2 separate regions of the Homo sapiens genome follow, and region 2 is linked to region 1. The links come from fine-mapping of genetic effects on gene expression. Tissue or cell type: whole blood. Region 1 holds a variant in brackets; the other region holds the start of a gene. All regions are shown on one strand. Distances are between the middles of the regions.

Region 1 (5,000 bases):
ACAGATTATAATAATTGGATGTAATTGATTAGATTAAATAGGTTTTTGCACACTGAATAAGTAGCTTCCCCATTGGCCTCATTGCTTCCTTTATCACATCATATTTTATTCTTTAATTTACCAGTATCTGTTTCTGGGCTACTTTGTCCTGGAGTCTTGTGCCCATATTGCATGGCCTTAAATACTGTAGCTTTATAATATGTTATAAAATCTGGTAAGCCAAATCTGGCTTATTATACTTATGTTTTTCAAAATTTTCTTATTCTTCCAGAAGTTATATTTGATTTTGATGGGAATCATGTTGATCCTATTTTGACTTTAAAATAGTCAGTCTTTCCATCTGGGAATTCAAATGGAGAATACTTAGGAATCTTGTAGGCCAGGCGTGGTGGCTCACACCTGTAATCCCAGCACTTTGGGAGGCTGAGGCGAGTGGATCACCTGAGGTCAGGAGTTTGCGACCAGCCTGGCCAACAGGGTGAAACCCCGTCTCTACTAAAAATACAAAAATTAGCTGGGTGTGGTGGTGGGCGCCTGTAATCCCAGCTACTCGGGAGGCTGAGGCAGGAGAATCACTTGAACCTGGGAGGCTGAGGTTGCAGTGAGCCGAGATTGTGCCATTGCACTCCAGCCTGGGCAACAAGAGCAAAACTCCGTCTTAAAAAAAAAAAAAGAAAAGAAAAGAAAAAGAAAGAAAGGAAAAAAGAATCTTGTTTTGCAGGCAAGATACAGAAGCTCAGAGGAGGGAAGCAGGGGCCCAGGTCTCCTGACTCCCTCTCCAGTGTGTTCTACACTCACCCTGCTGCCCATCTTTCTCCCCACTGGAGGCAAACTCCGTGTCCAACCTGAGGCTCCAGTCCCCTGTGACCACCAACCGGCCCCTGGTTGTGGGGTGCTGGGGCCTGTCCCCTGCTTACCAGGCGGGCAGTTCTCTAGCAGATGGACAGTGAGGGTGGCAGGGCTAAAGGTGGGCCGGTTGTCATTGTCATCCAGGATGGTGATGAGCAGGTGGGCCGTGCTGTTGAGCAGCCCGATGTCCTCAGCCAGCAGCAGCAGCTCCAGGATGGGTGGCGAGAATGCCTCCCGGTCAATGATGACACCTGACCTCACGGTCACCACACCTGGCACCCGGTGCCGCCAGCCAGGGAAACACACAGAAAAGGGGTGCGGTGGGAAGACAGGGCAAGAACCAACAGGGAGAGAGCAGAGAAAGACAGGGGCACCATGGGACAGAGATGAAAGAGGAGCAGAGGCAGTAACAAAATGACTTTCTCCCCCACAGGCTCAACCACCCGTGCTGAGGGAGGGCCCCATGCATTTCCTGTGGTTGTCCCCTCTGCAGGTGCCCTCTGCTGTCTTCAAGACTCTTGCCTGGGAAGAGTGACCCAGGGCACAGGGTTGACCGTCTCTGTTGACAGATGTGCTTTCCTGTCGGCACCTGTCACCAAAGCGGCCTCCTGTCCAGGACCAGACGGATGTGGCATGGTCTGGTTGGAGGACAGGAAAGTCGCTCTGGCTACTTCTGCTGGACTAGGGGCCTGAGCCTCTGGCCTGCGCATGGGGAGATGACGGGAGTGGGCTGGGGGGCTCCCGGCCCAGGCTGAGAGTTCGTGCACCAACAGAGGTCCTGTGTATCGTCTCCAAGCCTCTTCCCACGTCCCCCTGCCAGGCCACTGGGTGATATAACCCAGCTGCAAGATGGGGACTCTGGGCTGTGAAAAATGGGGTCTCCACGGACAGCCTGGGTCCAGCACTGAGAAGGGAGGCCCTCAATCCAGCAGTGTGGCCATCCCCACCCCAGAATCAGGCTGGGAGTGCTGGGTGGCACAGAGGCCTCACCGGTGCTGCTGTTGATGTCAAAGAGGCCACTCTGGGCACCCAGCAGCTGGTAG[G/C]TCACCACGGCGTAGATGTCTTGGTCTGCATCCAGGGCCAGGATGGGCCCATTGAGCACCGTGAGAGGGGTGCCTGGGCCAGAAGGAGAGGGGTCACCACAAGACCAACCCAGCCCCCTGCCCTCCCACCTCCCCTGCCCTGTCCCGGTGAGCCATGGCTGACGATGGATGAGAGGGGAGGGAGGTGAGGTGGACAGGGTGGGGAGGCCCTGGGGGCGGGCCTGCGGCAGCCTTGGCAGACTGAACGCAGATGCCTGGGGAGCGGCCTCAAAGCCCTGCTGGGGAGAAAACATGAGAGTGGTGAGCAAGGCCCCGGCTGCCCAGAGCCACATCTGCCTTCCCAGCAGCCTTTGAGGCTGGCCGCTCCTCGGGAGGGTCTGGGGCTCCCTGACATCCCCTCCCCATGTGTGGGTCTCGCCTGTCAACACATGTGTTCACACAATGCTCTGCCTTTGGGGGCCTGGCCATACATGACTAGAAAAACCCACTCATGTGTGCATCAAGTTCTGTGTTCACATGGCCACAGGCACTTGTCCAGGAGCACGCACAGGCCTGGGATTCCCTGGTTGTGCACTCGTGTGCCTCTGCAGGTGGGCATGTCTGCACACGAGCGCATCAGTGGGCACCCATGTACCTATATGTGTCTGTGCACATGTGTAACCCCACGCACATGCCTTGGTATGGACACACACGGGCACATGTGTGAGCATACACACAGACAGGTTTAAGAATGAAATTCACCTAGGGGGGATGCCCAGCCAGAGATGAGGAACAGGGGCTGGGGAGACTGGAGGAGTGCAGGTGCCACCTCAGGGGACATCACAGAGGAGATTCTGTCCCTCTGGAGGGAGGTGAGCCTGGTCAGTGCATGTGTGTGGGGAGAGGGCTACACTGGCCTACCCAGGACCCCCTGACCTCCCACTTCTAGTTATAGATGCTCCCCAGGGCTTCCAGAAGGCCCTGGGATGCCCTGCACTCCTGGGGTGGAGGGAGCAGTGAGGGGTGGACCCACTCCCCTCCGGGGTAGTCCTCACACCTTACATGCCCTTCTTGAGGGATGGTGGGGCAGCTCTCAGACCACCCTGGGGAACAATGACCACGACTGTCTCTTCCAACCAGACCTGTGGCTTCTTTGTGCTCATAGGAGGCCCGGGAGCCCCAGCCCACCATCTCCCGGAGCTGCACCCATCCTTCCCCTCCCGCACCCACTGGGGTCTAGGTTCAGCTATGCCGTTAGGCATAAGGGAGGTCCTCAGGCATCCCAGGCCCCAGTGGTGCCTGGCAACAGCAGGAGCTCCCGGGTGGGCCCAGCACCTACCAGCGGGAGAGTTTTCCATCACCTCTGCCTGGTAGGTGCTTTTAGTGAAGAGGGGGTGGTTGTCATTCTCATCAGAAAGGAAGATCAGAAGCAAGTCATAATCCTGCAAGGGGCAGAATGGGGCACGTTGTAGGCCATGCTCAGCAAAGTGCCCCCACCTAGGTGGGAGGAGGGTTGGGAGGTTGGGGATTGGGGCACAGAGGTGGATGATCAGAAAAGCCCACACCAACATGAACTCACATTTTTCAAAAGAAGACATACAAGAGGGCAACAAACATGAAAAAATGTGGCCGGGTGCAGTGGCTCATGCCTGTAATCCCAGCACTTTGGGAGGCCAAGACGGGCAGATCACGAGGTCAGGAGATCGAGACCATCCTGGCTAACATGGTGAAACCCCGTCTCTACTAAAAGCACAAAAAATTAGCTGGGCGTGGTGGCACGCACCTGTAGTCCCAGCTACTTGGGAGGCTGAGGCAGGAGAATGGCATGAACCCAGGAGGCGGAGCTTGCAGCGAGCGGATATCACGCCACTGCACTCCAGCCCAGATGACAGAGCAAGACTCCATCTCAAAAAAAAAGAAAAAAAGAAAAAATGCTTAGTGTTGCTAATCATCAGAGAAATGCAATAAGCCACAGTGAGGTACCCTCTCACACCAGTCAGAACGGCTATTATTAAAAAGTCAAAAAACAACATGCTGGGCATGGTGGCTCACGCCTGTAATCCCAGCACTTTGGGAGTCTGAGGTGGGCGGATCACTTAAGGTCAGGAGTTCGAGACCAGCCTGGCCAATATGGTGAAACCCTGTCTCTACTTAAAATACAAAAAAATTAGCTGGGCATGATGGCTTACACCTGTAATCCCAGCTACTTGGGAAGTTGAGACAGGAGAATCGCTTGAACCCAGGAGGCAGAGATTGCAGTGAGCCGAGATTGTGCCACTGTACTCCAGCCTGGGCAAGAGAGCAAGACACCATCTCAAGAAAAAAACAACAGACACTGGTGAGGATGCAGAGAAAAGGGAATGCTCATACACTGCTGGTGGGAATGTAAATTCCTTCAGCCACTGTGGCAAGCAATATGGAGATTTCTCAAAGAACTAAAGACAGAATTACCCTTCAATCCCACAATACCCCTCTACTGGGTACCTGCCCAAAGGGAAATACATCGTTATATCAAAAAGATACTTACACTCACATGTTTATCGCCACACTATTCACAATAGCAAAGATATGGAATCAATGTAAGTGTCCATCCACAGAGGACTGACTAAAGAAAATGTGGTATATAGACCATGGAATACTACTCAACCGTAAGAAAGAGTGAAGTCGTGTCTTTTGCAGCAACATGGATGGAACTGAAGGCCATTATCCTAAGTGAAATGACTCAGAAATAGAAAGTCAAATATTGCATATTTTCACTTATAAGTGGGAGCTAAATAATGTGTAACCATGGATATACAGAATGGAATAAGAGTCATTGGAGACTCAGAAGGGTGGGAGGATGGGAAGAGGGTGAGGGTTGAAAAATTATTTATTAGGTACAATGTTCACTGTTCAGTGAGTGGCAGTGAGTTCACAGTTCAGTGAACATTGGACATAATAGGTAGTTTTGGGTACACCTGATGGGTACACTAAAAGCCCAGTCTTCACCACTACACAATATGGACATGTTAAGAAACCTGTGCTTGTACTCCCTGAATCTAAAAAAAAAAAAAAAAAAAAAATCTGAAAAGCGCCCACACCAGGGTTCAAAGACCTGGGTTGAAGACCCTATTCTGGGTGATCTTGGGT
Region 2 (5,000 bases), 390 kb after region 1:
CCATCTGCTATCACAACCCTCAAATCAAGCCCTTTGGTAAGCAGACGTGAGGAGCCCAGCTGTTTAGAGGTGAGGAAGGCCAAGTCTGAGAAGTATATGCGGACCCAGCACAGACGGGGCCAGGATGCTAGCTCTGGGCCTCCCACCCCTCACTGCTGTCCTCCAGCACTCGAGGCAGAGCTTCCTGGTTCACACCAGTGGCTTCTGTGTGCCACCTTCCCAACTCACGGGGGACACCCACCCTCTACCACGAGACACTCTGCCTTCCTGCCCTCCCCAGCCCTGGCAGCCAGAACCAAGCCTTGCTATTCCCCCAGGCAAGGGGCCCCTTCCCAGCTCCTCCTTGGCAGAGTAACATCTAGTGCCCCCACCCCTGTAGGTGCTGACCGCAGTGCGCCTACCCCTGCACCACGAACCAAGCACTAACTCCAAGCCAGCTCTCCCCATCGTGGGCTGACTCATCATCACCATGCAACTGGCCCCAACTAGGTTCTTAAAGCCCGCCCCACCCCACACCCCACAACCTAATTCTTCCCTGTGTGAGGGTCTGACTCCACCCAACACACACACACACACACACACACACACACACACACACACACACACACTCCTGTGTCTCTCTAGCTTATTTCAAAATCCAAATTAGGGTTGGGGCACTTCCCAAGGGGCTGGAAGGCGAGGTCAATGTCAATGCCAGCTCTGGTCTGAGAGGGCAAAGGACGTAGAAAAAGAAGGCTCTGCTTTCTGAATTACTAGGGAGGATGGGGGAGTATTACTACCGAGGAAAGGCTAATTTCCTCCCAGTGGACCGCTGACAGCACTAGGGCTGGGGCTGGGGTCGCAGTGGGGCGGCGGCTGGCATCGGATCTCCGCTCACAGCACGGAGGCAGCCTCTCTAGGTGCCCGCTCCGAGAAAGCCAGGCAGAGTCCCCGCCGGCTGGCGCCGTCACTGCCTTGGAACACGCGGGCTCTGCTCGAGTCCTGGGCTGACCTACGGTGGAGATGAGGGGCAGTGCTCCCGGGTGCCAGCTCCTGGGGGCAGCCAGCACCGCTCGTAGCGGACCAGTTCCAGGGCCAGGAAGGCGAAGCGAGAGCCGCAAAAGGCTCCCGGCTCCTCGAGGGGCGCGTCTTCCCATAGCTGGACCGAATTTGGGAGGATGTGTAAGTCCCCTGGGGTCTCCCGCGGGCACAGGGACTTGATGAGGGGAGGGGAGAACTACGTGCCTTTAGTTCCCCTCAGCGCCTCTGCCCAGCCCGCAGTAGGGGTGCGCCCCACCCCATCCCCACTGTCCAAATGGGGACCCAGGGCTCAGAAGGGGAGGGGATTGGATCCCAACGCGCTCCACTCTCGAAAATCTCTCCACCCCAGACCTGGACCCTCTCCGTAGCGCCGAGAGCAAAGCCCCCAAATGTTCGCGGTCCCAGGACCGGGGATGGGGGATGGGATGCCTGTCCTCCCAAGGCCAACGCGAATGGAATTCGAGTTCCCAGGAATCAAAGTTGCCGCGCGTCGGGGAGCTCGGAGCGGGGCGCGAGGCTAGGGCCAGGGGCCTGGGACCGAAGGATGCCGCGAGCGCCCGCCACGGGCGATGGCCGCGCTGGGAACAAGTGGTTCGGCAGCCGCGGTCACCACCAACTTCCCCGCCGCGCGGCGGGCGAACGGCGAGGGGAAGGAGAGGGAAGCGAGGAGGGAAGAGGCGGTGCGTGGCTCCGGGTACCGTGTGCGTGTGTGCAGCGGCGCCGCGCCTCGCCTCGCCTCGGGCTCTGCTCTCCGCCGGATCGGCCCCCGCGGGCCGCCTGCTCTGGCCCTGGCCACCGCCGCGTCTTCCCGCCGGCGCGAAGGCTCATCCGCGGCGTGCCGGCAGCTCCTGGGTCTCCGCGGGCCGCTCGCCGCTCGCCGCTCGCCGCTCGCAACTTCAGGCGCGCCGGGGGCTCGGACTGGGCGCGCCCCAAACGTCCAGAGGCTCTGCCACCCCGCGCTCCATGCCCAGGCCGGGCTGACTAGCCCCGACCACCTCAGCGTCCGGCCGCCGTCGGACGCGTCCTCTAGCCAAGCATCGCGCCTGCAGCCCGCGTCCCTCTCTCCCGAGCCGCCGCCGCCGCTCAAGTCCGCGATCAACTTTCCCTTGCTTCCCCCGCCCCGCTCGGCCCCCGCCCCGCTCGGCCCCCGCCGTCCAGACCCCGCCTCCCGCAGCTCCCTCCCTCACCTCCCGCCTCGCCCGGCCCCCGCCCGCCCGCCCGCGCTCGGCGCTCCCCCACCCCTCAGGCCGCCAGGACCCCCGAGCTCCCGCCCGGCCCCGCCCGGACCCCCGGGAGCGGCGCCGAGCCCCGCCGGGCGCTCAGGGCATGAATATTTCAGTGCTGGCGAAGCTGCCCTCTGCCGATGTCATGGCACCGGCTGCTGTGGCAACTCTACGAATCCCCCAAAGGGGCAGGGAGGAAGCCCGCGGAAGAGGCCCCAGGTGCGAGACAGAGCAGTGCCCCGCCAGGCCGCCAGCCGTCCCGCAGAGGGGCGCGCAGGGGGATGGGGCCCCCAGCGTCTCGTCCGCCCCGCGCCTCAGGCAGAGCGAGGTAACGCTCCCGGGAAGCCCGGGCGGGCGAGCGGGCGCTCGGCCTAGGTGAGCCCGCGCCATCTGTTGGCTTTAAGCGCCCCCTCTCTGCTCCCAGAGTCGCTGAGCAGTCCCTCTAGTCCTTGGGGCCTCTTGGCCTACGCTTCTCTCCAACCAGCTGCCTTTGCCCACCCGACTCGTGCGCTCCCATCTGCGCCTCCTCCCTCACTAGAGCTCAAGAGGCCTCCAAGTGCTTAGAAATGGAGGACCCCGGGTTGGAGGAGACCCGTGAGGTCACTTAGGCGCCCTCACCCCTGCGGGAGCTCCGTCTGCAGTGCCCGAGTCATGGTCTCCCGGCTCCTTTTTGCACACCTATAGGGACAGAGACTTTATGGCTTTCTGAGACAGCTGGATCAAGAAAGGGTCCATATGCAGGTAATGGAAGAGGTTTATCCCCTACCTTTGATCTTTACTTCCCCGGGGCTAAGCATTCTGATTTTTTAAAACTATTTCTCACATGACAGGATTTCCGAGCTGTCACTGTTCCAGTCAGTACATTGACAGTACCTGCCTGGAGCCAGGCTCTGGGCTGAGACTTTCTGGGCCTCAACTCATTCTATCTTCAATAAAGTCTTTCTGGTGGGCCCTGCCATTATCCCAGTTTTACAGTGAGAAACAGGCTTTAGGAGGTTGGGGACTTGCCCCTGTGGTGGAGTCGGGTATTGAACCCAGAATCTATCTGGTTCCAAAGCTCCAGTTCCTTACCATTCGCTCATTCATTATTCATTCATTCATTCACAGTCACTGCTATGTGCTAGCTAACTGAAATAGTTTCTAGGAATAGGATGGAGAACAAAACAGGCTTGGTCTTTGTGCCCCATGAAGCTTCTCTAGTAGGGGAACCAGACATTCATCAATGAAACACATAAGCAGGTAAAATTACAGCCAGAATCAGTGCTAGGAAGAAGAGTGCTTTAATGGCGCCTGGCCGAGGGGATCAGGGAAGACCTCCTAGAGGAGGTGACTGAGCTGAAGGATGAGCAAGGGAGAGAGAGTGGAGTTTTAGGCAGGAGAAACAGCATGTGCAAAGGCCCCAGGTGCCCACTGCAGGCAACGGCTGGGCCAGGAACAATGGTTTGGTGACCGCAGTCGCAATCAACTTGTGCAAAGGTGGGAAGGAGCTGGCATATGTCAGGAAGTCCAGAAAGGGTGGGGAGAGCTCCGTGCCTCCAGCGTACGAGGAAACGCTCCTGGGAAGCTTGGGAGGGTGAGTGAGCCTGCACCATCTGTTGGCTTTAAGCACCCCCTCTCTGATCCGAGTCACTGAGTGGTCCCTCTAGTCCTTGGCAGTGACTGTAAAGCCACAATGGAGTGGGGGCCAGACTGTGCAGGTGTGTTGGCCTTAATCAGGAGTTGATCTTTATCCTAAGACTGAAAGCTTCAGAGGCCGGGCTTGGTGGCTGACACCTATAATGGCAGCATTTTGGGAGGCTGAGGCAGTAGGATCACTAAGACTCTATCTAAAAAAAAATAAGAGAGAGAGAGAATTGATTGGGAGGCAACAGTTGATGAGAAGAGACTGCTTCAATTAAAAGTATTTATTTGTCAAATACTATGTGCCAAGAAATTTTCTAGACCAGGGGTGAGCACACCGCTACCCAGAGGTCAAATCTGCCTCATCACATGTTTTTGTAAAGAAAGTTTTAGTGGCACACAGACATGGCCTGTTTGGTTGTGTCTCCTTTCACACTACAACTACAGACATAAGGAATTTCAAGAGGGACCGCATGGCCTGCAAAAACAAGAAATATTTACAGCCTGGCCCTTTACAGAAAACGTTAGTTAACCCCTGTGAATTTAGACACTTTGGATATGTCAATGAACAACACACACAAGCACACACACACAGGCACACACACATGCACACAGACACGCATGCTTGCGCCAAACAAATCCTTGCCCTGGTGAAGCTTACATGTCCTCAGGCTGCTGCAGTGTCTAGGTGATTGGTGACAGAGGCCTGGAATGAGGGGGTGGGTAGAAGTGGAGAGAAGTGACTTTCAGGAGGTAAAAATCTACAGGGCCAGGAGGACAGGGAGTGGTTATACGTGAGATAGAGCAAAGGGTCAAGGAGACTTCTGGGTTTCTGGCTTGTGGTGGTAGATGGACAGTGTGCTGTTTCCTGTGATGGGGCCCTCTGAGGAGGCCACTATGGAGACCTGAGCAAGAGCTCCCTTGGGACATGTTGTGTGAGAGGCCTGTGCAGTCACAGAACAGAGATGCCAAGTAGGCTCTTGGACAAATGAACTGGAGTCGTGGTCCTACATGTCTTAGGTGGTCATGCTTTTACACAGTGTGATGGAGCCAGGAGTCCGGAGAGCGGGATCTGAGTTCTAGGTCACCCTCTAGCTGGATGGTAGCGGGCTGGACACTGGACCTCTCTTGGCCTTG

Evidence for each region. PIP is the estimated chance that this variant, and not a neighbour inherited with it, causes the effect.
Region 2: CDH23 starts here. The variant in region 1 is fine-mapped to the expression of CDH23 in whole blood (TOPMed, PIP above 0.99).

Annotation. Positions count from the first base shown.
Region 1 is chr10:71,787,253-71,792,252 of GRCh38, reverse strand. CDH23 (cadherin related 23) reads right to left here. Exons shown (of 70, transcript NM_022124.6): 45 at 3,211-3,313; 46 at 1,840-1,965; 47 at 918-1,121. MIR7152 (microRNA 7152) reads right to left here and starts at 1,506; the gene lies at 1,453-1,506. RefSeq lists an enhancer at 1,066-1,965. The variant G/C (reference allele first, on the strand shown) is at 1,893.
Region 2 is chr10:71,394,037-71,399,036 of GRCh38, reverse strand. It overlaps CDH23 (cadherin related 23), which reads right to left and starts at 2,117. Exons shown (of 70, transcript NM_022124.6): 1 at 1,719-2,117. RefSeq lists an enhancer at 1,314-1,825 and a silencer at 2,509-2,598.